Linked DNA regions of Homo sapiens: all the other regions are linked to region 2. Evidence: fine-mapped expression QTL. A gene starts in region 2. Each other region holds a variant in brackets. All regions are shown on one strand. Distances are from middle to middle.

Region 1 (5,104 bases), 99 kb after region 2:
AAAAAAAGTTGCCATCCAGTTAAAAGCCCTCAGAAAAGTGGAATCCAGAAGAGGTACTTATTATTCTACCCTGCTTACATCTACAGACCAAGGAAAGGGAACTTCTAAAAACCAAAATCAAAATACAGGAAGGTGGGGAGTGGGGAGATTCAGTAAGGCCAATGCTCAGAAATATTGATTTTTAATTTCCAGAGGGAGCCAGGATGAGGGACTTTAGTAGTAAAAAATTTGTAAGACTCAGTGGCCTTTGAAATGCCTCATGACTATTTGATCTTCTCTGGGCTTCCCATTTTTCCCGAGTCATTGATAGTATAACACTAAAAAAAAAAAAAAAAAAAATCAAGGAGTGACCAGGCACAGTGGCTCATGCCTGTAATCCCAGCACTTAGGGAGGTGGTGGGTGGTGGGAGCCGAGGCAGGTGGATCACCTGAGGTCAGGAGTTCAAGACCATCCTGGCCAACATGGCGAAACCCTGTCTCTACTAAAAATACAAAAATTAGCCGGGCATGGTGGCGGGCGCCTGTAGTCCCAGCTACTCAGGAGGCTGAGGCAGAAGAATCACTTGAACCCGAGAGGCGGAGCTTGCAGTGAGCCGAGATCGCACCAGCCTGGGTTACAAGGCGAGACTCTGTCTCAAAAAAATATATGTATAACAATAATAAAAAAAATCAAGGAGCTTGTGTGCATATATTCAGGAACAACAGTGAGAACGCTAAGGCTTAAAAGTGGTGCTGGCAGCTAATCAGTGAGAAAAAGAAAGCTGCAATAAGAAGGAAGAACACAGAGAACCCAGTGACAGTAAAAGGACATCTTCATCCGAAAACCGATTCTGTGGGATGCTTCCACCTCTCCATATCACATAGCACTTCTTGTCACTGAAGTATAAGATCAAGTCCAAAAGCATGCAGGGGTCAGGTATTCCTAGAAGCATATATTCCAATACCTCTTCCTGTGAGCCGCTGTTCCTCAGCAAAGCATTTGATCCTTTGTTTCCAGGGCCAGGCCATTTTCGCTTCATTTTCTTCTGTTTGCCATTCTTGTGACCAGCTTTAAGATTTTTATTTTTTTGTTTAGCAGCTAAAAACAAAAAATTAATTTAAAAAATGACATAAAGTTACAATAGCAGTTTACTTTTAAGAAGTACGGGGCCAGGTGCAGTGGCTCATGTCTGTAATCCCAGCTCTTTGGGAGGCTGAGGCAGGAGGACTGCTCAAAGCTAGGAGTTCAAGGCCAGCCTAAGTGTTCAAGGCCAGCCTAGGCAGCCTAGAGATCTTGTCTCTACAAAAACATAGCTGGGTGTGGTGGTGCACGCCTGTAGTCCAGCTACTCTGGGACTATAGGCTAAGGCAGGAGGATTGCTTGAGCCAAGGTGTTCAAGGTTACAGTGAGCTATGACTGCACTGCTGCACTCCAGCCTGGGCAACAGAGTGAGAACCTGTCGCAAAACAAATGGAAAAAAGAAGTATGATTTACAATAATTGAGGAAAGTTCTCTAAGGCTCAATAAGTGAAAACTGGCATGATAGTGATCAGTTTTCCTAGAAGCTCTGGGACTAAGGGACCAAAAAGAGAATTATGATAATACATCCTGGATTCCCCATTCATTGTTTTTAAAAATATATAAGGTATTGTCAAGAAAAAAGCAAGATAATAAAATCAGTCTTATAAGTTCTAAGGCAGATCCTTTTGAAGTGTTCAGAGTATGATGGATCTAATTAGGAACTGCAACAGTAAAACTTTAAGTGTTTACAATGACCTCATAAATTACTGTCAGATTTTTCACTGAAAACATTTTAAATAGATCAAGTTTTTATTTATTTATCTATCCGTGCACGCATTTATCCATCTATCCTGCAATGGCATAATCATAGTCTACTGGAGCCTCGAACTCCTGGGCTCAAGCAATACAGATCCATTTTAAGTAAAGAAAACAACAAAAAAATGACAGCATTAAAATTTTA[AT/A]TTTTTTTTTTTTTTGAGACAGAGTCTCGCTCTGTTGTCCAGGTTGGAGTGCACTGTGTGATCTCGGCTCACTGCAACCTCTGCCTCCTAGGCTCAAGTGATTCTCGTGCCTCAGCCTCCAGGGTAGCTGGGATTACAGGCATGTGCCACCATACCCTGATACTTTTTTTTATTTTTAGGTTTCACCATGTTGGCCAGGCTGGTCTCGAACTCCTGACCTCAAGTGATCCACCAGCCTCGGCCTTCCAAAGTGCTGGGATTACAGGCGTGAGCCACCATGCCTGGCCAAAAATTTCATTTATAATTGCCATTTGCCCTCATATTTATGGCTAAATCTCATTTTAGTAATCTAGAAGAATATATTTCTGAGTTACAGTCTGACATACAACCATTCCAGTCAATCCTCTTTAAATGACAGCAATACAAGCAGGCATATCCTATCCTTCACACATGCAGAGGCCAGGGCTTTAGCATTCTCCCTTTAGAAATAGTCAGGGCCTTTGATAACCCACCTCCATCCTCCAGCTCCCTCTACAAACTAAGCATTTAATGCACCAAGTGGCCAGGTCTCAGATGGGGTCTCTGGCCATGCAAGCTCATGTCTGGTATAAATATTCATGAAAACCATAGTCTTATCATAAGATAAAGTGCAAAGAAAAATCCTCTGTCCGTATATGGACAACTGTGACTGCTTCTCTAGATAAACTTTAAATGATAAAATAGTTTGACTCTTACCCTGTGGGGTATCTTTTACTCCTTCTTTCTTTGTAGATTCTTCAGGTTGAGCAGCATTTGCCATTTCTCTGGCTTGTATGTACTGTTGAAGCTCTTTGGCAAAATTATCTTCTGATTCCTGACTGCAGATATCATTATCACTATATACATCATAGTCCTTACTTCTTGATTTTCTATGCAGCGAACTTTTTGGTGATATTGCAGAGTGTCTAAACTAAGTAAAAATTAAAACTTCAATTTTAAAAACCTAGCATGATTCAAAACAATCTGGCTATACAGAAGAAACAAGATTGGCTATAAACTGGTCATTGTTGAAGGTGGGTAATAGGTACATGGGATTCATATACTATTCTCTCCACTCATATATTTGAAAATTTCCAGAATTAAAAAAAAGAAAAAATTTCCAGAATTAAAAACAAACTAACAAACCACTATGACATATCTATCCTTAAAGATGATTTGAGGGAAAATTCTAAATTTGTACATTGTGTGCCTTTGACTGAATTAAAAGTCTAAACCCCTAAATCTTAATTATTTGATATGAGAGGATTACAGTATTACAGTTCACACATTACATTTCTGCCTTTGCATTGACAGTACTTTTAAATGTCTTCAATAATTTATCATTTTGTAAAACACCCCAAGTAAACTGTAATGGTCCATATGAAAACCCACTTACACTTAAGATACATCTAAGCTACCAAAGTCTAGTCTTTCTCCTATAACTCACAGAAGTGGTAGCAGCAATGATGACAAGGAATAAAGAACTACCCTATTCTCTGTAATCAAGTTAACTTTACTTGCAGAAAGAGTTTCCTAACTCTGTTGTTGCACGTGCCCAAGGCAAGGGTGAAGAACCCAGGCATGGGAGCTAATCCTAGAGGAGCCCAGGCTGATGACAGCAATGACTTAAAGCAATTTCTGCATAAAAATTTTCAGGTATTGGTTACATGTGTTTCTACACTTGGTGACACAGGTATATTAAACTGTATCATTATAATTAGTATGTATGACACATTTTAATCAGAAAGTTTATTTTTAAAAAATGACCAAGTATCAAAGGGCTCCTATTCTGATGTCACGAAGAAATGGCATGCCTATCATTACAGTGGATAATGATTTTGTTTCAAAGCATACTTTGGGGCCTGGTCTCTTATTTGCTTTCACATGATAACTAAGAAGCAAACTCAAAACAAACAGACAAAAAACAAAACAGAAGAATCGCTATTATAAAATATATTAGGTGGCCCAATTTAACAGTTTACTTTTTTTTTTTTTTTTTTTTTTTTTGATGGATTCTCACTCTATTGCCCAGGCTGGAGTGCAGTGGCACGATCTTGGCTCACTGCAACCTCTGCCTCCCAGGCTCAAGCGATTCCCTTGCCTCAGCCTCCCGAGTAGCTGGGACTACAGGCATGCACCACCATGCTCAGCTAATTTTTGTATTTTTGATAGAGACAGGGTTTCACCCTATTGGCCAGGCTGGTCCTGAACTGCTGACCTCAAGTGATCCGCCTGCCTCGGCCTCCCAAAGTGCTAGGATTACAGCCATGAGCCACCATGCCCGGCAACAGTTTACTTCTGATGGTTAACTTCAAAGTTAGGAGTTGTTCCACCAGAGGATTGATTATAAGCCTAGAAAATGAACTTGCTCCCTGCTTAAAGAATCCAAACAAGCTGAGGAAGTTTCTTGATCTGACAATGGCCTCAATTATACCTTATCTTCCCTACACCAGACAAGACTATCAACCAATTATCTTCAGGCCACCAAACTTCTTGTCTCTAGGTCTTCAAGAAAGAGTGCCTTTTCCCCATTAACACCATAGAATAAACTTGTAAATGTAACTTCTGGACTGATAGATCAGGGGTTGGCAAATTTTCAGCTTCACCACCTGTTTCTGTAAATACAGTTTTACTGTAACACCAATTACATCCATTCATTTACATATTGTCTTAGTTGTGACAGAGACAACATGGCCTACAAAGGTGAAAAGATTCACTAACTGATCCTTTATGAAAAGGTTGGCCGACTCCTGTGATAGATTATGTTTACCTTGGTTTTGGCCTTTAATTTTATTTAGTAGGCATGGGGGAACCAAAAAGATTATTCAGTATGCAGCAGCTCCTATGAAGTTTAGCTTAATCAAATACATAGAGGTGAGATTTTCTTCAGTGCATCTGAATCAAAATATTAAAATGATCCAAATGAGTGATTAAGTTCCCTCTGTCTGCACAAAACACATAGGCCTACAGTATTGAAGCAGACTCCTTTTACGACAAGTAATAATACGTTGGACTTACATTAAATGAAGACATGAAACAATCTGGCAACATTAATAAAGCCAGGACAATCATCAATTTTGCTGTTTTATTATACAGTAGGGATAAATATTACTAATGATTCTTT
Region 2 (5,104 bases):
CATGCCCCGATTCAGCTTCTTCATCTGTGAAATCAAGAATCTCTTCCAGCTTTATGACTCCACAGAAAGGGCAGGAGAAGAGAAAAGAAGGCTTGCTTACATCTGCCCGATGTCTGGTTACCAGCGCATAGCCAGAACAAGGCTGAGAGCCAGAACAGCTGGCCTTCCAGAGAAGGTCGCCATGTAAACACAAGGTGGGATAGGACACAAAATATTAATAAATGCAGCCACACTGACCAGGAGGAAGCTTTTCAAGGATAGGGCAGAGGACAGAGAGACAGAGAGGGAGCAGGGCACTGGCTTTTGGTACAGACAGCAAACACATGAGAGATCGAGGCAGAAAACCACCATCTCCACAGGCTGCCCTGGATCGGGCCATGCTGTCCCGTCCTCTCCACCTGGATAGGGAGAAGCAGGGGTATGACCATGTCTCTCTTCAGGATGTTCAACCAGGAATGCAAAATAAAATTACATGGATCCCTTGCAGGCTGCAGTGGCTCACACCTATAATCCCAGCACTTTGGGAGGCTGAGGCGGGTGGGTCATTTGAGGTCAGGAGTTCAAGACAAGCCTGGCCAACATGGTGAAAACCTGTCTCTACTAAAAATACAAAAATTAGCTAGGCGTGGTGGTGCATGCCTGTAGCCCCAGCTGCTTGGGAGGCTGAGGCAGGAGAATTACTTGAACCAGGGAGGCAAGGCTGCAGTGAGCTGAGATCAGGCCACTGCACTCCAGCCTAGGCAACAGAGCAAGACGCCGTCTCAAAGAAAAAAAAGATTTACATGGGTCCCGTTCCACCTCCTTTGCATGGGAAGGTTGGGGGAGCAGCACTGTAGGATTTCCTGGGCAACCAATGCCCAGGAGGCCAGCCTAAACCATGTCCCCTGCTTTTTGGGGCACTGGCTAGGTTCTGAATGTTGGTGTCTCCCCTAAATTTATATGTTGGAAACCTCATTCCCAAGATGATGGCATTAGGAGGTGGGACCTTTGGGAGGTGACTAGGTCATGAGTGCAGAGCCCTCAAAATTGGGATTAGTGCCCTCAGAAAAGAGGCCCCAGAGAGCTGCCTTTCCCCTGTGAGGACACGGGAACCAGAACTCTGGCCCTCGCCAAACACCTAATCTATTGACACCTTGATCTTGGACCTCCCAGTCTCCAGAACTGTGAGAAACACGTTCTATTGTTTATAAGCCACTCAGTTTATGGTATTTTGCTATAGCAGTTTGAAGGGACTAAGCCAGGACTCCAGCTTTCCTTTCTGGCCTCTGCTGGGAAACAGCTCCTGCTCTGTGGTCACAGTCTTGTGGGCTCCCCGTTCCCTGAGCTCTGAGTGGGCTCAACAAAGTGAAATGTGGAAGAGGAAAAAGAGATCTGGGGCTTGACCAGACTTGTGTGTCCCAGGACATCTGCAGTGACTGCCTTCAGAAAACCTTCCAGGAAGAACGTCAGTCATGCCTTCCGGGAGCTCAGGTCTGAGGCATCTGGTTGTACCACAGCCCTGATGGCAGGGGACTTCAGACTGCTCATGCCGGCCTGGCACTTCCTGATTCGACTTCAGCAAGGCAGGCAATGTTCTAGAACCTGACCTCCGATTTAAACTGAGTTTCTCCTTCCCTTGAGCAAGGAGGACAGTGAATCAGAAGGACGTAGATCCCCTCACTGTATCACTGTGTGTGTATCTACTCACTGTGCGTGCGTGTTCTCACGGCCCCATTGCATTATTTAAAGGGACACTAGTTTATTCGGATGGAGAGCTCAGTCCACCCCACGTCAAGCTTATGAAGCCCATTTCCTGGCCCCCTTCTAGGAATGTCGGGAGGAGGGTGTCGCGTGGGCTTTGAAGTAGGACAGACCTGGGTTTGGGTTTCTGTTCTGCCACTTGTCCTTGGTGACTGAGCCTCAGTCTACTTGGTTGGGAAATAGGACGGTCGGGAGTGAACCCGCCCAGGGTGGGCTTCCAGTCACCCGCACATATGCGGGGCACTGGCCGCCCATCCCTGCCAGGCCCCGAGGATGCCCGCGCTCGTCCTCGGCGTCGCGGGTTGGGCGCGCTCCCGGGCGCATTCCCGGCCGGGCAGCCCCTCCTCCCTCGTCCTTAGCCCAGGGGCCGGCGCCTCCCCGCCTCGCGCGGACTGTCTCGTGCGGGCAGCTGCGGGCGCACCTGGACCCTCGCAAGGCCCGGGCGGCGCCGATCCCCGCGGGACGCGCTGCGCTCGGGGCCTCCCGCCTCCCCCCCTGCCCCAGCCGCCCCCCGGCCGCGCGGCGCCCCGCACCCTGCAGGGACGGCTGCCGCATCGCTGGGACAAACTCGGCAGCGGAGGCAAAGTTATTTCCCCTCCCAGGCAGCGGGATTCCGACTGGCAAGATGGTGCCCAGCTCTCCGCGCGCGCTCTTCCTTCTGCTCCTGATCCTCGCCTGCCCCGAGCCGCGGGCTTCCCAGGTCAGTGTCCCTCCCGCCTCTCTCCAGGCCAGTGTCCCTCCCGCCTCTCTCCAGGCCAGTGTCCCTCCCGCCTCTCTCCAGGCCAGCGTCCCTCCCGCCTCTCTCCCCTGTCCCTCCCGCCTCTCTCCCCTGTCCCTCCCGCCTCTCTCCAGGTCAGTGTCCCTCCCGCCTCTGTCCCCTGTCCCGCGCGCCTCTCTCCACGCCAGTGTCCCTCCCGCCTCTCTCCAGGCCAGCGTCCCTCCCGCCTCTCTCCAGGCCAGCGTCCCTCCCGCCTCTCTCCAGGTCAGCGTCCCTCCCGCCTCTCTCCAGGCCAGCGTCCCTCCCGCCTCTCTCCAGGTCAGCGTCCCTCCCGCCTCTCTCCAGGCCAGTGTCCCTCCCGCCTCTCTCCAGGCCAGCCAGTGTCCCTCCCGCCTCTCTCCACGCCAGTGTCCCTCCCGCCTCTCTCCAGGCCAGTGTCCCTCCCGCCTCTCTCCAGGCCAGTGTCCTTCACGCCTCTCTCCAGGTCAGTGTCCCTCCCGCCTCTCTCCAGGCCAGCGTCCCTCCCGCCTCTCTCCAGGTCAGCGTCCCTCCCGCCTCTCTCCAGGCCAGCGTCCCTCCCGCCTCTCTCCACGCCAGTGTCCCTCCCGCCTCTCTCCAGGTCAGTGTCCCTCCCGCCTCTCTCCAGGCCAGTGTCCCTCCCGCCTCTCTCCAGGCCAGTGTCCCTCACGCCTCTCTCCAGGTCAGTGTCCCTCCCGCCTCTCTCCAGGCTAGTGTCCCTCCCGCCTCTCTCCAGGCCAGCGTCCCTCCCGCCTCTCTCCAGGTCAGCGTCCCTCCCGCCTCTCTCCAGGCCAGCGTCCCTCCCGCCTCTCTCCACGCCAGTGTCCCTCCCGCCTCTCTCCAGGCTAGTGTCCCTCCCGCCTCTCTCCAGGCCAGCGTCCCTCCCGCCTCTCTCCAGGTCAGCGTCCCTCCCGCCTCTCTCCAGGCCAGCGTCCCTCCCGCCTCTCTCCACGCCAGTGTCCCTCCCGCCTCTCTCCAGGTCAGTGTCCCTCCCGCCTCTCTCCACGCCAGTGTCCCTCCCGCCTCTCTCCAGGCCAGTGTCCCTCCCGCCTCTCTCCAGGCCAGTGTCCCTCCCGCCTCTCTCCACGCCAGTGTCCCTCCCGCCTCTCTCCAGGCCAGTGTCCCTCCCGCCTCTCTCCCCTGTCCCGCGCGCCTCTCTCCATGCCAGTGTCCCTCCCGCCTCTCTCCACGCCAGTGTCCCTCCCGCCTCTCTCCAGGCCAGCGTCCCTCCCGCCTCTCTCCAGGTCAGCGTCCCTCCCGCCTCTCTCCAGGCCAGCGTCCCTCCCGCCTCTCTCCACGCCAGCGTCCCTCCCGCCTCTCTCCACGCCAGCGTCCCTCCCGCCTCTCTCCACGCCAGTGTCCCTCCCGCCTCTCTCCACGCCAGTGTCCCTCCCGCCTCTCTCCAGGCCAGCGTCCCTCCCGCCTCTCTCCAGGCCAGTGTCCCTCCCGCCTCTCTCCCCTGTCCCGCGCGCCTCTCTCCACGCCAGTGTCCCTCCCGCCTCTCTCCAGGTCAGTGTCCCTCCCGCCTCTCTCCAGGTCAGTGTCCCTCCTGCCTCTCTCCAGGCCAGCATCCCTCCTTCCTCTCTCCCCTGTCCCGCGCGCAGGGGAGGCAGCACCAAGGCTGGGGGACCCGGGCTTGCCACTTTCCACTCGGATGCCTGGGTTGAGAGCTCGGAGCGATGCCTGGGCTGGGGTTCAGTTTTCAGAGAGAGGTGCAGGGTCCCCCACCTGTCACCTCAGATGCATCGCTGGCCGGGCCCCTGGGAGGACCCGGGCTGGGCTGCGAAAGCGTCGGTCCATTGTGGGCGAGGACTCCACGTGAGCACCGCCGGGAGGAAGAAGATTTCTCAGGGAGCTATGAGACATTGGTCTTTCCTGGGTCTCCATGAGAGCTCCAGGTCACCTAATTAGCTTAGAGAACGTCCCCGCCCTCCAAACTCCGACATTTAAATTTCCAACCGAAGTATCAGAACACTCACGGGACTTTCTCAGCAGTTTGTGGCATTTCCCAGGCAGAGGTGGCCCGGGAGGTTTCCGAAGCGGTCCCTTCCCGAGCCGGCGAGGCCCTGGATGTGCGACTACATTTTCTTAAACACATATACAGGCGGCTTGCTGTTTAATTTTTCTGTTCTTGCCGTTGGCATTTGTTCGAATCTCACCGGATTTATTTGTTTAATACTTGACCAGATTCGCTTTTATGTTAACCATTAGCAACTGATTTTTAAAATTAAGGCGAGAACTTGAATTGCCGAGTCCGGGACCCACATCCAGCAGAGTAGCCCTGGCAAGCCAGGGTGAGGGGCCCGGCCATGGACTGCCGACCCCGCTACCTGCACAATACCAACAGCGGTGGGCAGCGGAGAGCCTGCACACGGAGTGCCTGGTGCGCCTCAGGCTCCCTGCAGGGCATCTTCCAGTCACTTCATTCCCGGAGCTACCCTGTGAAGTGGGGACTGTTACCCCCATTTTGCAGATGATGAAAGTGAGGCCCAGGGAGGATGAGATGTATTCAAGGTCACACAACCAGAAATGAGCGGAATAAACCCAGTCTCTCTTGTTGGGCTCCAAGATTTCTTCCTTGCCTGCAGACACTTGCCCATACTCCCTGGCCAGAGACTGACTTCCTGG
Region 3 (5,104 bases), 24 kb after region 2:
CTCCCTCAGCCTCAATGTCACCCCTTTTCTTCTTCAGCCTTTTCATTCTGGCCTTAACAACTATCACGTCTTCATACGGACCAAACTGTTGCAAGGCGCCACTTTTAGATCACGCACTGCTTTTCCCTTCCCCGTCCACAAGTTGGATCCAGTTTTGGTTTTGTTTTCATTTTTGATTTTACTTTAAGATAATTTTTTAGAGCAGTTTTAAGTTCATAGCAGAGTTGAGTGGAAAGCACTGCGTTCCTCCACACCCTCTGTGCGTGCACACACACGCGCACGCACACGCGCACGCACACGCACACGCAGACGCACGCACACGCACACACGCACGCACACACACAAGCACGCGCACACGCACGCACACGCACACACGCGCACGCACACACGCACGCACACGCAGACGCACACGCACGCACACGCACACACGCACGCACACACACGCACACACAAGCACGCATACACGCACGCACACGCGCACACACACACACACACACTCAGCCCGAGCCAGTGCAATACACTGGTTCCAGTCCATGACCAAGGTTGGCTCCAGTGCTTCAGGCGTGAAAGTGCACCCTCCAGGGAGTCCCCGTTAGTACCAGGACGGTTGGGAGGGAAGGGCTGCTGAGGACAAGTTCCACTTGTCTGATGAGGCTACAGCCGACACCCCAGACTCCCTCCCATGAGGGCAGGACTCTGACAGACACAAGGGCACTTTTTCATGCTTGCCCTGTAACAGCTTTCACACCGCCAAGACCCAGAGATGGGCGGCTGGTTTTCCTCCGGTGTCTTAGGGTGCTGGGGGACAGGGGCCAGTCATCATGTTCATTCAAAGTCAGGAGCCTGTGGAATATCTGACATCATTTACTCACTGCAGACACATTTATCAAGGGCTGTCTTTGTTGAGTGAGTTGAAGTTTCCTGGGGAAGGCGTTGGATTTCCTACCTTCTCGGAGATGATGGTGGCAAATCCAGCTCTCAACGGCACTGAGTCCGTTCCTGTTTTCCTTGGCTCCACAGCTGCAGAAATAACCACCAGCCAAGCCTCACACTTTCCAAGGCACTGTGAGGCCCAAGCCCTCACTGGGGCTCCACACACCCCAACTCCATGGTGCAGGCAGGGTGTCTTTCCTTCCTGCCTCAGATGGGGAAACTGAGGCCAAGACAAGTAAGTTAGCGGTCAAGGCCTGACTCCACAAAGCCTTCCTTGTTTTCATGGGGTCAGAGCTGCCTGCGGTCCCTGGGAGTTTCAGTGGAGCCCACAGGGAATGTTATACAATTCCCCTGCCCATGTGAGAGGGCCCTGCCCATGTGAGAGGGCCCTGCCCGCTAGACAGATAGAAAGGCAGTTATTATTACATTATTCATCCTCCTTCCCAAGATTCAGGGGCTTTCATCTCTGAAATGTACAACATTTTTTAAAGTGCCAAATTCTCTTTTTAAAAAATCGCCATCATGTATTGTATTTCTAAGTGTGTGGGGGACCCCGTGCTGGGTACTTTATGCGTGCAGAGGCTGATCCTGTGACAGCCCTGCAGAGGACAGGCAGCTGTCAGGATCCCTTTTCAGGGTGTGGTGGGGGTTGGGCCCGCACCTGGAGGAAAGCCAGACACCTGCCCAGATCAAATGGCACATAGTGGGAAAACTACCTTATTGCTTTTTAAAAGAGAGACAAGGTCTCGCTCTGTCACCCAGGCTGGAGAGCAGTGGAGTGATCCTAGTTCACTGCAGCCTCCCAGGCTCAAGCGATCCTCTCACCTCAGCCTCCTAGGTAGCTAGGATTACAGGTGCACACCACTGCACCTGATTTTGAAAATTTTGTAAAGATGGGGTCTCACTATGTTGCCCAAGCTGATCTTGAACTCCCAGGCTCAAGCGATCCTCCAGCCTCAGCTTCGCAAAGTGCTGGGATTACAGGCGGGTGCTCCTGTGCCAGGCCTGTTTTGCCTTTTTTTTTTTTTTTTAAGGGAATTTGCTGGGAGTCAGGAAGAATAATTTCCAGTTCTGGAGAATTCTTGGTCTTCCTCTCTGGCTTCCATATGAAGTACCTCCCTCCTGTTTCCTGGGTGCATCATCACAACCCATCAGCTTCAGGGTTCATCCAGAGCAGCCTCAGCGGATTCATGTCCCCATGTTGCTGAGACTGCTTAACTGTGGGTCTCACTCCTTACATGCTAACTTCACCTCGGAAGGCGCAGGGAGCTTCGCTGTGGCTCTGCACACTCAGTAGGATGTGCTTCTCGCCAACAGAATCAACCAAAGGACACGTTCCCCTTCTGTCACTAGAGAAGGGCCTTCAGCTCCCATTTGGGATGTGACTACAAATTGATTTTTAATTAATTTGTATCCATTAATCCACTCCATTCACATTTATTAAGCATCTATTAAGTGCCAGATACTGTTCAATCTATTCAGGTATGGTGTATTTGTGAGTTGCAGGTAGTTTTCTTTTGTCGAGGTTTTTAAAGATTTTTCATCCCCAAAGAGACCCTACTATTTTCCCCCAATGCATTTTAAAACTCTTTAACGCAATAAAGTACTAGATGTAAAAAAAAAGAACTATAAAGTAATTTATTTCAGAGGCTGAGGCAGAACCCCGGGAGCAGCCGAGTCCTGGGATGTGAGCTCTCACTCGCTTGCTACTCACAAGGTTATTACCACTGGGGGCCAACTTGGAGCTTTACTCAAGGAAGGCGATGCAGCAATGGGCAGATATTCCCCAATCACCAAAGGCCACCGAGCATCCTCGGAGGGTCCGGCACCTCCCTCCGCCCCAGCTCAGGCTGCCACGGCTGCTCCTCAAAGAACCCTAGGTTGTGTCCGGCCCAGGTGGGATTTTGGGCAGGGCTACACCATCCTGCCAGCTGCACTCCTGGACAGGGAGGCCCATCACGCTCCTTA[A/G]TGGCCTCTGGTCCAGGACACCCCTGATCAGTGCATCCTCATGGGGGATGCTCAGTGACTCTGTCACTTGCTTTGACCTGCACAGTTGAAGCAACAGTTCTGTTTGTGCCTGTTTAAAATATGAACATGGCAAATGACACTTGGAATTTACCTTAAATGCATTTTAGAAGTGGCTCTGAATTTCCATCTAAACTGAATCCAAATCCAAGCCATCCTAACTTTGGGCATTCCCTCGTCGCCCATGCGTGATGCTCTGTTGCAAAAAGAAGAGGAACAGGCTAGCTTCACCCCGTCTCTCTCCAACCACATCAGTCCTTCGGGAAATCTTCACAGAGCAGCCAGGATTCGAACCATGTCCCTCATGCTCAGCTACTACCCTGGCCTGAGCTTCCCTCCCCTTCCTCTTGTACGGGCACTTCACAATCAAACCGCAGCAGGAGTGCTGCTGAGAGAGACCTCCAGAGGCCCGGTCTCACACGGAGAACAAGTTGCATGGCCTTTTTGTTTTCTTTCCAATGCCCCGTGTAACTCTGAGCTGTCTTGATCCTGTTGCCTGACTCATGTCTAACTACTTTCCACCTCGTCCACTCTATTCCAGTCCTGTTGCCTCCTTGACATTCCTCAGACCTGCCAGGCACATCCCCACCTCAGGATGTTTGACCAGCTGTCCCTCTGCCCTCCCCAGACATCTGTCTGGCTGTGCCTTCACCTTCAACTCGTTCTGGTGAGGCCTGCCCTGACCACTGTATTCAAAATGATGCCCTCTCTCCAGCATCTCCAGCATCATTCCCTGCTTTCATTTTCTACATGGCCCCACACTTCGCCATTGCTTATTATCTCCCCTGCTAGATGGTGGGCTTCCTGAGGGTTGGGTTTTGTCTATTTTGTTCATGGATATAGCCCAAGTCCCTAATATAGTGCCTGCCTAAGTCCCTAATATAGTGCCTGGCACATAGTAAAGATGCAATAAATAAGGCTCCATTCATTCATTTGTTCAAGAATGATTTATGATTTATCCAGTATTCACTATGTGCCAGGCAGTGGGCTGGTGCTGGGGATACACAGGAACATAGGCCAGATGCATTCTGATGGAGAGGACTGACCGCATATCTAGAAAGAGGCAAGTCAATAAGAAAGTTCGGATGGTTACAGATACTGAGAAGACAGCAGAGTGAGCACCTGGGGAAGAGTGTCTGGGGAGGTCTGGGTTAGGCACGGTGGCCAGGGAACACGCGGGGAGGTGGTGGCATATGAGTGGAAACCTGGAGAGTGAGAAGGAGCCAGTTGTGGAAGCTCTGAGGAAAGAACATTCCAGGCAGAGAGAAGAGCAAAATCCCAGGCCTGGAGCTGGGGCTGAGCCCGGCCTGTTCAGGAGACCTAAAGAAACCCAGGGGGGCTGGAGCCCCAGAAAATCAGAGTGAGTAGGTGGCAGTGATGAAGCGGATCATTGCAGGGTGGGCCTCCCACGCTTCGAGGCCTTGCACACAGCACTTAGTGTCTCTGAGCCCCAGTCTCATCACCTTTTGCTAAGCAGGCATCGTACCACCCATCCCCAAGAGAGCTTTGAGGACTTGATGAGACGCAGCATGCAGAATGACCAGCACAGTGCACAGCCTGCAGCAGGCATGCAACAGAGGGCACTTCGAGATGGGAAGTCCTGTAATTCAGTAATGTCTAAGGGCTGTGGTCCAGGATGAGGAGCTCGTAATCCTTCCATCTCTCCTTACAGTTTCCTGCCCGGCTCTGAACACCCCCGCAGACGGCAGAAAGTTTGGAAGCAAGTACTTAGTGGATCACGAAGTCCATTTTACCTGCAACCCTGGGTTCCGGCTGGTCGGGCCCAGCAGCGTGGTGTGTCTTCCCAATGGCACCTGGACAGGGGAGCAGCCCCACTGTAGAGGTATCGTCTCTCCTTCCCATCCCACTGCGCTGGACCCATCACAGTATAGCAAGGGTTTCTTGCATAGAAAGGGTCATTCCTTGGAACATTTTCTGCTTGGTTCTTTAATCATTCCTCAACCACAGAACAGCAGCCAATGTGCCTGATCACTCACCTCCATGCCAGGTTGGCGCTGGTCTCTATCTGTATGAGCTCACTATATCTTCACAATAATTTAGTCTTGTTTTGCATATGGGGAAACTGAGGCACACAGAGGTTCAAGAACTTGCCTAAGGTTACACAGCTAGGGGGTGGGCGGCACAG
Region 4 (5,104 bases), 31 kb before region 2:
ATCTCAAAAATGTTTATCTTGCATGAAAGTGTTGCATGATTTAGATGATTATCTAAATCAGAGCAGTGGTTGCTTTTGGTGAGGTGGGGATTGACCAGAAAGGAACTTAAAGAACCTTCTGTGATAATGGAAATGTTAACTGTATTGATTGGCATGGCAGTTACTCAAGTGTATATATTTGTCAGGTTTCTTCAGACTGTACACTTAAAATTTGTAATATATATATATATACACACACACACGCTTCAGTGTTCAAAAATCACTGTATTCCCCTTCTAAGAGAAATGTTGGGGTTTTGAATGTCCCAGGAAAACATTTTTGGATTGAGGAACCTCATTTTTATTTATTACATCAGCTTATGTTATAATTGTTCTAGTTTATGGAGAAGCAATATTTGCAAATTAGTGTAATAACAAAAGTGACTACTTACTGGGCATAGATTGTGTGTCAGGCATTTTATATGTGCTAACTTGTTCAATGGTCACTAGAACTCTATGAGGTAGAAATTATTATTATCCCCAGTTTATAGTCAGAAACACTAAGTCACAGGAAGTTAATTGCCTTGCCCAAGATTCCAGTGAGGCAGACACTTAGCCTTTGCTCCACTGAAACTGCAAACATGCAGAAGAGCCTTGGTCAAATATGAAAGAAATCTTGATCTTTCCTATCTTCTTTATGCCATACGCACATTTCAAAATTTGTACATCAGGGATGTAAAGCATACCCAAAGATGTGTTTTGTTCTTGAATGTACCATGAATCCTGAAGATTTTTAAATCCATAAACTTTAAAATAATTGCAATTAAGGAAATATGTATGCATGTATACTTGTTTAAACTCTAAAACTAGGATTCAAACAAGAAACTTGAAAACCTGGTGGTTCTGACAAATAGTTTCCAAAAATCTGTGAACTTTTTTCATATATTTTTCCTACATTCCCAAATGGTAAATCCAGCATCCTGCCTAAAGTTTCCATTATTAACCCTCCATTTCTAAAAAGATATAGTATTTTTTCTTATCAGATTATTAAATTTCTAAAGGAAAATATTATTTTGTGATTTTATATATATGTTTATAATGTCTCTCGTAGCCGAAGGAATAAAATTAAGAGCCTCAAAATCAGTTTCCAATGGAACAGCTAAGCCTGCCACTTCTGAGAACTTTGTGAGTATGGTATATATTTAGTACAATCTTAGTCTTCCTTAGTCTTCACTACTTTAGAGAGCTATACGAGTGTCATATTCATTGACTCTCAGAAGAACAGTTTTTACTAAGATTTTGTTGTTGTTGTTATAAAAATTAGTGTTGCCAAGTGCCAAGTAGCAATCCTGGTTGTCCATAACTGAAATACCTTCATTGTAGATCTCACTTCTCACCTGCTGTTCCTAGGCCAGCAGCATGAGCATCATCTGGGAACTTGTTAGAGATGCAGAGTCTCAGGCCTACCCCGGACGCTCCTGAATTGGAATCTGCTTTTTGAAAAGATTCCATAGCCTGTTCATCTGCACATTCGAGATGGGAAAGCTTTGTTCCAATAAAAGCTTGTGTTAACTTTTCAGCCTATGAAAGTGATTTTTGAAGCCATTTTAAAATAACATTTGTTATCTGTTGGTAAAGAACTTTATGTGTTACCTACACGGTTACCAAAATTAACAGATTTTTTTTTTTTTTGAGGTGGGAAGCTTGAATAAAATTGTAAAACATTGGGCAGAGATGAGCTAAAAAATATTTTCTGCATGTTATTTATGCATAAAAATGTTTTTGAAGACAACAATGTAAAATGGAAATGTCTATCATATAGTTTTATACTTTCCTTATAACTATATGTGCTGTGATTAATACTATGTAAAAATTTATGTATGCATATATAAGTTCTGACACGATAGATAATATGTGAAGACATTTTTTATCTGTTAGATTTGGCAGATTCTCTAATAGATTAGACAGATGGATAAATAAACAAGATGGATAACATAGACTGGAGGGATGGATAGAAAGGATAGATGGATGGATAAAATAGATAGATAGGTAGTTAGATAAGATAGACAGACATAGACAGATAGCTATCTCAGCTGACCTGCTTTCCTTTTCTTGCCTCCTGTAGGGAGATGAGCATAAATGAGTGATACAAATAAATAGGCTTTTCTAAAGTTAGAATATTTGAGATCAGGCCCGGTGGCTAATGCCTGTAATCCCAGCACTTTGGGAGGCTGAGGCAGGCAGATCGCTTGAGCTCAGGAGTTCGAGACCAGCCTGGGCAACATGGTGAAACCCCATCTCTACTAAAATTACAAAAAGTAGGCGGATGTGGTGGCATGTGCCTGTCATCCCAGCTACTCGGGAGGCTGAAACAGGAGAATTGCTTGAACCTGGGAGGC[A/G]GAGGTTGCAGTGAGCCAAGATCACACCGCTGCACTCCAGCCTGGGCGACAGAGTCAGACTCTGTCTCAAAAAAAAAAAAAAAAAAAGAATGTTTGTATTATCATCATTTTTTTTAAAGTTATAAACTCATTATATAAGAACTAGAACAAATTAGGAGGCATAATGAGTGTGGCAAAGCAAAAATTCAATATCCTTGCTATTTTCTATCTTACAAATGAACTTTGTGTTTTTACTGTGATTTCTCAGGACAAAAAAAATAATATTTCATACATCCAACTAAAACCAAGAAGTGTAGAAATCTGAAATCTAATTTTTGCGTGTGTAAGAAAACAGTGGCATAATTTCTGTATGGCATGAGTGCCAACTTAGGACATATGTAGAAACTAAAAGAATGTCAAATATTTACATTTAAACACTTAAGTTATATATATATTCTGTTTTAAAAATTCTGCTGTCAGGTGATATTAAGCAAATGCTAAGTATAAATATTTCTACAGGATGAAGATTTGAAGTGGGTAGAAGAAAATATTCCCTCTTCATTCACAGATGTGTAAGTTATCTTCTGTTACAGTTTGATTGTAAATTTTAGGCTGTAGTTTAAAAGGGATCGTTCTCATCCTTTGTCATGTGCTTTTCAAACCTCGTACTTGCATGTACTTGGGTAAGCCCCTATCACCAGTACATGGCCCTTACAGAACTGCAAAGAAAACAAAACCCTGGCTTGTTTTGTTTTTCACGATACAGCAACCATTTTAAAACTAGTGGCCTCTAACCAACTCTAGCTTTTTCTGATCTGCCATTATCAGGATCATTTCATTTTTTATCTATTATGGAAAACGTCAAATGTATGTAAACTTTTTTTTTTTAAAGGTAACCACAGCACCATGTATTGTGAGGAGGCTTTTGGAGGAAAAACATGAGTATAGGAATCCCCTCTGGAAACTTTGAGCTATTCAGGATCCTCTTTATCTATGTTCTGTTTGACACAAGAATTCCAGATAGCTGTTTCCATAGTGAAAAATAGAATAGCCAAGTATGATAAAATTTTTTTACATATTGGTCTTTCCCTCCCTAGCCCCCATCTGGTTTCTGTTTAGATAGCTTCTGTGTACTATGATATTCCTTTTGCCTGAAGAATTGCCTTTACATTTCTTTCTTGTAGTGCAGGTATGCTGGTAGTGAATCTGTCAGATTTTTGTTTGTCTGAAAAAGTCTTTGTTTCACCTTTATTGAAGAAATTTTTGTGGGAATAGAATTCTTTGTTGACCTTTTTTTTCTTTCAACACTTAAAAGGTTGGTCACTTGAATGTCTTCTGGCTTTCATAGTTTCAGAAAGATGTCTGCTTTAGTTCTTATCTGTGTTCCTCCACATGTTATATGGGTTTTGTTTGTGTGGGTTGAGGTTTTTTTGGGTGAGAAGGGCTGGGGAATTGTCTGCCTTCAGGATTTTAACTTTATCTTTAGTTTTCGTCATTATGAATATGATAATTCTAGGTTTGTGTGGGCATATATTTTCATTTCTCTTGGCTGTATACCTAAAGTGGAATTGCTAGATCATATGGTAACTCTATGTTTAACATTTTGAGGAAGTGCCAAGCTGTTTTTCAAAGCAGCTGCATTATTTTATAATCCTATCAGCAATATATGAGGGTTCCAACTTCTCCAAACTTTTTGTTAACACTTATTATTGTCCACCTTTTTGATTTTAGCTCTTAGTGACTATGAAGTGATATGTCATCGCATTTATGAGTTACTGGAATGCAAACTGCCTTGCTGGGGACTAGTGTTAAATATATTTAACTATGGAATTCAAACTGTCTTGTTGGGGGACTAGTGTTATTTAACTAAACTGTGATAACTGAAATTAATGTATAAATAGTCTGTGCAAAGTAAGAACTGCCTATTCATTATGAAACTAACAATACACTGTTATACTTTTTTATTTTAGCAGTCAGAAAAGGAAAATATGGGTGTATATATTCTTTTATATTTCCCATGTATTTACTTTTTCTTCTTTCTTTCCTCTATATATGAGCTAAGACCTTCCTCCTATAGGTCTTTCTTTAATATTTCTTATAGGATAGGTCTGCTGACAACAAATTCTCTCAATTTTATTTATGTGAAAATGTATTTACTTTTCCTTCCTTTTTAAAGGATAGTTTTGCTGGATATAGAAATCTTGATTGACTTTTGTTTGAGCACTTCCAACATGTCTTTCCAATATCTTCTGGCTTTTGTTGTTTTTGAGGAGAAAGTAGTCATTAATTGTATTGTTCTCATGTGTGTGATGTGACATTTATCTTTTGCTGTTTTTCTGATTTTTCCTTTATATTTGGCTTTCTGCATTGTGTTTATGATATGCCTAAGTATGGTCTTTTTTTTTTTTTTTTTTTTTTGTCTATCCTCCTTGGAATTTGTTGAGCTTCTCAGATCCATGTCCCATGGTCATTTTCCAGTGCCTTCAGCTACTTTTTTTTTTTTTTTTTTTTGAGACGGAGTCTTGCTCTTTCACCCAGGGTGGAGTGCAGTGCAGTGGCGTAATCTCAGCTCACTGCAGCCTCTGCCTCCCAAGTTCCAGTGATTCTTCTGCCTCAGCCTCCTGGGTAGCTGGGATTACAGGCAGGCGCCACCACACCCAGCTAATTTTGTATTTTTAGTAGAGACGGGGTTTCACCATGTTGGCCAGGCTGGCCTCGAACTCCTGACCTCAGGTGATCCATCTGCCT
Region 5 (5,104 bases), 50 kb after region 2:
ACTCTTAAACAGCAAGTAGAGCTTTTTTTTTTTTTTTTAAAGTTGGGAGATGGGCCTTTAAGGGGAATGACTACAACTATCACAAAGCACATACATTTTCCTCTCAAAAAGAGATCACAAGAGCCCTAGCGTTGTCTTTAAAATGAAGTAACAGCCATGGAGGGTAACTTAATTATTTGAATTGCTGTTGAGTTAAAGCAGATTAGAAGCAGCAAGAAACTTAGTGGCACTGAAGCATGGCAGTTTTTAGAGAGAGTGAAGACATCAGAACCTTCCTCATGAAGTCACTCGGTGAAGGGATAGGGAACGGGTCTATGACGGCCTCTGGGGCATTCGACCAACAGCTGGATGTGACAGTTGACTGCATAATCATGATGCTACAGAATCGCCAAATATACTAGATTGCATTTGTCTTTTAACAACATAGAGAAATATCGAAAGCATTTCCACAAGACCCTCTTTCCAAATGATTAAGGAAAACAGGGCTTCCTGCGTTGAGAATACACGTGATGGCCAGGCACAGTGGCTTATGCTTATAATTCGAGCACTCTGGGAGGCCGAGGAGGGCGGATCCCTTGAGATCAGGAGTTCGAGACCAGCCTGGCCAGCATGGTGAAACCCCGTCTCTACTAAAAATACAAAAATTAGCTGGGCGTGGTGGTGGGCACCTGTAATCCCAGCTACCCAGGAGGCTGAGACAGGAGAATCACTTGAGCCTGGGAGGTGGAGGTTGCAGAGAGCCTAGATCATGCCATTGCACTCCAGCCTGGGCGACAGAGTGAGACTCTGTCTAAAAATAAATAAATAAAATACATGCTGCTGTGTTTAGGAAGTTCACCGTACACCGTGTGGGAAGCACTGCATTACAGGATGTTGCTGGCTAACTGCTGAGGTCCTGCCATTACTGGGCGAGGTCGCAGCACATGGAGAAAGGGCACCTGGTTTGAATATCAGCATTGCCATTGTTATTTAATATTCCCAGGCTATATTTTTCTGTAAAAATGATAGTAATAGCATAAATAAATGTATGTGCACACACATACACACGTACACAGGTGGGCAGGGAGCACCCTTGAGCAGGAACAGAAGCAGCAGCCCTTCCTTTGCCATGCCTGACACCAGCTACATTCACTCGTCCACAGCTCCATAGCTCCTGGGTGAAGGACCCGTGGCTGGGAAAGGTCATCTAGGTGGCCTCTGCAAGAGGGCAGGTGGGCAGCCGGGTCAGAGCAGCTCTTCATGAGACTCCCCAAGGCTGACTGCCTCCATTTTGCCTCTCCGCTCCAGCCAGTGTGAGCGGAACCCCTGCCCCATGGACAGCAGGCCCTGCCGCCATCTGCCCAAGACCATCTCCTTCCATTACCTCTCTCTGCCTTCCAACCTGAAGACGCCCATCACGCTCTTCCGCATGGCCACAGCCTCTGCCCCCGGCCGAGCTGGGCCCAACAGCCTGCGGTTTGGGATCGTGGGTGGGAACAGCCGCGGCCACTTTGTGATGCAGCGTTCAGACCGGCAGACTGGGGATCTGATCCTTGTGCAGAACCTGGAGGGGCCTCAGACGCTGGAGGTGGACGTCGACATGTCGGAATACCTGGACCGCTCCTTCCAGGCCAACCACGTGTCCAAGGTCACCATCTTTGTATCCCCCTATGACTTCTGAGGGTACACAGGGGCACTGGGGTGTGGAGAGCTGACCTCATTTCTCTTCCCCGAAGGCTCAGCTTCGGGCACCGACTGCGTGGAGCCTCCCGCCTGTTCCCGCCCTCTCACCAGTGCACCCAGGCTTCTAGGGCAGCGTTGCACGGCGCCCCATGGAATAGCACGGAAGAGCAGCCACAAAACTCAACTGCTGCCATCACTCTTTTTTTTTTTCTGCTTTGAGGCCCTTCCCTTAGATTATGCACTAACTTTCTTAAAACTTTTTCATCCAGGGGATGGGTGGCTTTCCAAAATGCTGTGCAAATGGCCTTGTGAGTTTGAACTAGCTGGGGAGAGAAAAGGTGGCAATGTGTGTCAGGTGACTATCAGCCCTTCTGCCTTTTTGTAGCCAGGCTTGCTATGAATGAAACGGTTCTAGTCGTGCGGGGGGCCCTAGTCATGCCTCTGCGCATGTGGCATAGGAAGTGGAGTCTCCTCCCATGACCCAGCACGTTGTTCTTATCTGCCTTTTCCTCTGTGACATGCCTGCCTGCCTGCCTTCTCATCAGAGAGTCACAGGAGGGCCTTAAACCCCACGCAGATCCTTCTAGACCAAGGACCCATTGTTAAAAGCATGGATTCTGCCTGAGTTACTTCCCTTTTGAGAAATCATATCTCAAATACATAACCTGGTAATATAACTGAAAAAATAAAAGTGATTGCTCCTT[C/T]CTGCCCGCCTGACTTCTACCTGAGCATGAGACAGCCCACTTCCTTCTAGGAGGGGGTGGCTGACTCTCTTCCTGTCTGGGTTGGATACACTGGAATAAATGAGTCAGAGAACACAGAGGTGATGTTTGGGACTGTTCCACATTATAAATTTGTTTTGACCACATGGGAGATTGGTAAGGACAATACCTGGCCGTGGAGAGTTTAGGAAAATGCTTGAGTTGTCATAGATTCCATGGCCTTTTGTTTCTGATGAATTCACTACAGGGTGACGCCCTCCAGGTGATCAAAGAGAGAAAACACTGGCCAGAGCTGAGTGGGGTGTGGTAGGATGGGGTATGGGGTAGGGTGGGGAAGATCATTCAAGCTAAAACTTAAGAGGTAGCGAAGCTGTAAGAAAGTTTCATTATCTAATTACATGTCAAGCTGCTGGTGAGATTTCCTCACACATATTTTATTTAAATCTTTGTATTTGCCCTGGTATGAGATGGAGCCAGAAGTGTGTCACTAGTTCAATGATCAAGCCCTACATCAAGATGGTTTCTAAGATGGTTTATTCTTGTACTGTTGTTTGGACAAAGGTTGAGACACAGTCAAGAGTTGCTTTTGAAATGTTTCTTCTCCCATGGGCTCAGCTGCGATCTCTAACAACAGAAAAAGGACATGCAAACTAAAGTTACAAGACTTCATTAAAACATTATCCACAGCCTTATGTTTCTAAATGTAGCTATGCTGGGCCAGAAGCCTGCACACCACCCAGTCCCATGTGCACAACACCAGGCGGAAGAGTCTAAGGGCCTGGCCAGGTTCCTGAATGGGAGATGTCACAGCTGTGGGCTAGGGACAGCCCACACATCACACACATCATATGTGAGATATGATGACATATGATGTGGGATATATGTGGGATATATTGAGATATGATGTGTTCAGGGGGACAAGCCTCTCACATGCCAGAAGGTGGGGAGTGTTTGGGGAGTCTCCAGAGCAGGTGCCCTCTAAACTGGTATATGATAGGGCTTTGATGCCAAACAGCCCAGTTTAAAGCAACAATTTCCATCACCAAGATCTGCCGTCATCAAACCTGCTTCCCACTGATGAAATCACGCACCCAGCCCCGGTGCCCACAGCACCAAAGTACAAATGGCTGACTGCTTAGGATGTGGATGATGGCTGTGGACAATGATGGCTGGGCACTTCTTGTGGATGATGTGGATGATGGGTCTTTTGTGGATAATGGCTGGGCACTTCTCCCTGTGGAGTGTCTTGTTCTCTATATGCTCTCTCCTCACTCTCCTCTATGGAATCAACTTTTCTTTTGTCCTTTCAGAGCTCCACTCTGTACTAAGAGTAACTACTGGTTAACCAGAATTCATTTGCACCCCTTTCCAGGTAATATAGTTTCATATTATTTGAGGGAGGGGCTTTAAGACTTTTTATCATGCAAAGTTGCAAACATATGCAAAAGTAGAAAGAATAGTATAATGAACCCCATGTCTGAATCAGTAGCTTCAACAATGAACACATGGCCAACTTGTTTCATCTGCTATCACCCCACCTCATGATGATTCCCAATCCTATCATTTCATCTATAAATATTTTAGAATGTATCTCTAAAAGACAACTTTTAAAAAAAGGATAACCAAAATGCCATTCACATCTAAAACATTAATTCCTTAATACCTTTAAATATTCAGCCATCGTTGACATTTCTCTGAGTGGCTTATATTTTTTTGTTTACTTGCAGTAGGTCTATGCACTGTGATTTATTGATATGCATTTTAAGCCTTTTTTTAATCTGTAGCAGTGGGTCTCACACTTCAGCATATATTGGAATAATCTGAAGGTTTGTTGGAAGACAAAATATAGGGTCATTTATATTGTAGAATTTTTCACAGTATGAGTTTTTCTGAGTGCATCTCTGTCTTCTCTATTTCTTATAAATCTAGAGAGTTAGTCAGATTCAAGTTAGATTTATTTAGGCAAGACTACTTTATTGGTGGTGACAGATGCTTCCAGTAGGAGGAGCAAAATATCTGGTTGCCTCTCTTTTCTGATGTTAGCCCCCGCAGATTGCACAGATCCATTACTTCTGTAGGGATTGCAATTAATATTCTAGTGCTATTGATTTTTTCTTTGTTTATTAGCTGACATACTTTATAAAGAGAAACACACTCTCATCAGTTATTTGGTTACCCTGAGATTTGGTTTGTATAAGAAAAGTAGGATTGATTCTTGGCTTTCCTCCCTTTATTTTTCAGTTTTCAAAATGAGATGGTTCACAGGCATCTTTCCAACATGCCCTGTGAGAGTTGTTTTCTTCTTTGAGTACATTATGAACTCATGGTTGAAACATATCTGATGTTATCATGTGTGTTATCATCTGTATTAATAGTAATTACAGCTACTGTCTTTGTTTTTGCTCAAATTGTTCTATCTTTGGTTCTTGGGAGCTGCTTCGAGGTGGCTGATTCCTTTTGACATGACCCTAGTAGTCTTTTTCATCCTGTATATTTTCTGCCCCTGCCCTGAAATCAGCTGTTTTCTCCCAGTAATCCCTGGTTCCTTCTAGTGGGGGATGGTAATTAGACATCAAGGTCTGAGTGCTCAGAGTGCTCATTGGTAGTGGTTACATCATAGTTTCTTGGCTTTAGTGGCTAGAGCTAGGAAATATGTATTATTAGTATTTTTTAAGATAAAACACTACATGAGTTCATGCTGATACTTCCAATTTAATTCA

Which allele goes with the higher level. Alleles are on the strand shown, and positions count from the first base shown. SD is a standard deviation of normalised expression in the study named. Not every link is listed here.
For the expression in fibroblasts of the gene that starts at base 2,095 in region 2, allele A in region 4 goes with a lower level than allele G (moderate effect, 0.42 SD a copy in GENCORD).

What was found. PIP is the estimated chance that this variant, and not a neighbour inherited with it, causes the effect.
Region 1: its variant is fine-mapped to the expression of FBLN7 in whole blood (INTERVAL, PIP 0.96).
Region 3: its variant is fine-mapped to the expression of FBLN7 in whole blood (TOPMed, PIP above 0.99).
Region 4: its variant is fine-mapped to the expression of FBLN7 in fibroblasts (GENCORD, PIP 0.95).
Region 5: its variant is fine-mapped to the expression of FBLN7 in whole blood (TOPMed, PIP 0.94).

The regions. Positions count from the first base shown.
Region 1 is chr2:112,235,618-112,240,721 of GRCh38, forward strand. ZC3H8 (zinc finger CCCH-type containing 8) reads right to left here. Exons shown (of 9, transcript NM_032494.3): 3 at 2,698-2,911; 4 at 945-1,078. It also overlaps a transcript of FBLN7 not described here. Among named protein-coding and RNA genes, the nearest start is that of ZC3H8, 17 kb to the right of the region's middle. The variant AT/A (reference allele first, on the strand shown) is at 1,962.
Region 2 is chr2:112,136,291-112,141,394 of GRCh38, forward strand. FBLN7 (fibulin 7) reads left to right here and starts at 2,095. Exons shown (of 8, transcript NM_153214.3): 1 at 2,095-2,440. The coding sequence starts at 2,366. RefSeq lists an enhancer at 3,912-4,625.
Region 3 is chr2:112,160,371-112,165,474 of GRCh38, forward strand. It overlaps FBLN7 (fibulin 7), which reads left to right. Exons shown (of 8, transcript NM_153214.3): 3 at 4,631-4,801. Among named protein-coding and RNA genes, the nearest start is that of FBLN7, 25 kb to the left of the region's middle. The variant A/G (reference allele first, on the strand shown) is at 2,902.
Region 4 is chr2:112,104,913-112,110,016 of GRCh38, forward strand. TMEM87B (transmembrane protein 87B) reads left to right here. Exons shown (of 19, transcript NM_032824.3): 16 at 1,090-1,163; 17 at 2,876-2,928. Among named protein-coding and RNA genes, the nearest start is that of FBLN7, 31 kb to the right of the region's middle. The variant A/G (reference allele first, on the strand shown) is at 2,378.
Region 5 is chr2:112,185,847-112,190,950 of GRCh38, forward strand. It overlaps FBLN7 (fibulin 7), which reads left to right. Exons shown (of 8, transcript NM_153214.3): 8 at 1,288-2,372. The coding sequence ends at 1,660. Among named protein-coding and RNA genes, the nearest start is that of FBLN7, 50 kb to the left of the region's middle. The variant C/T (reference allele first, on the strand shown) is at 2,367.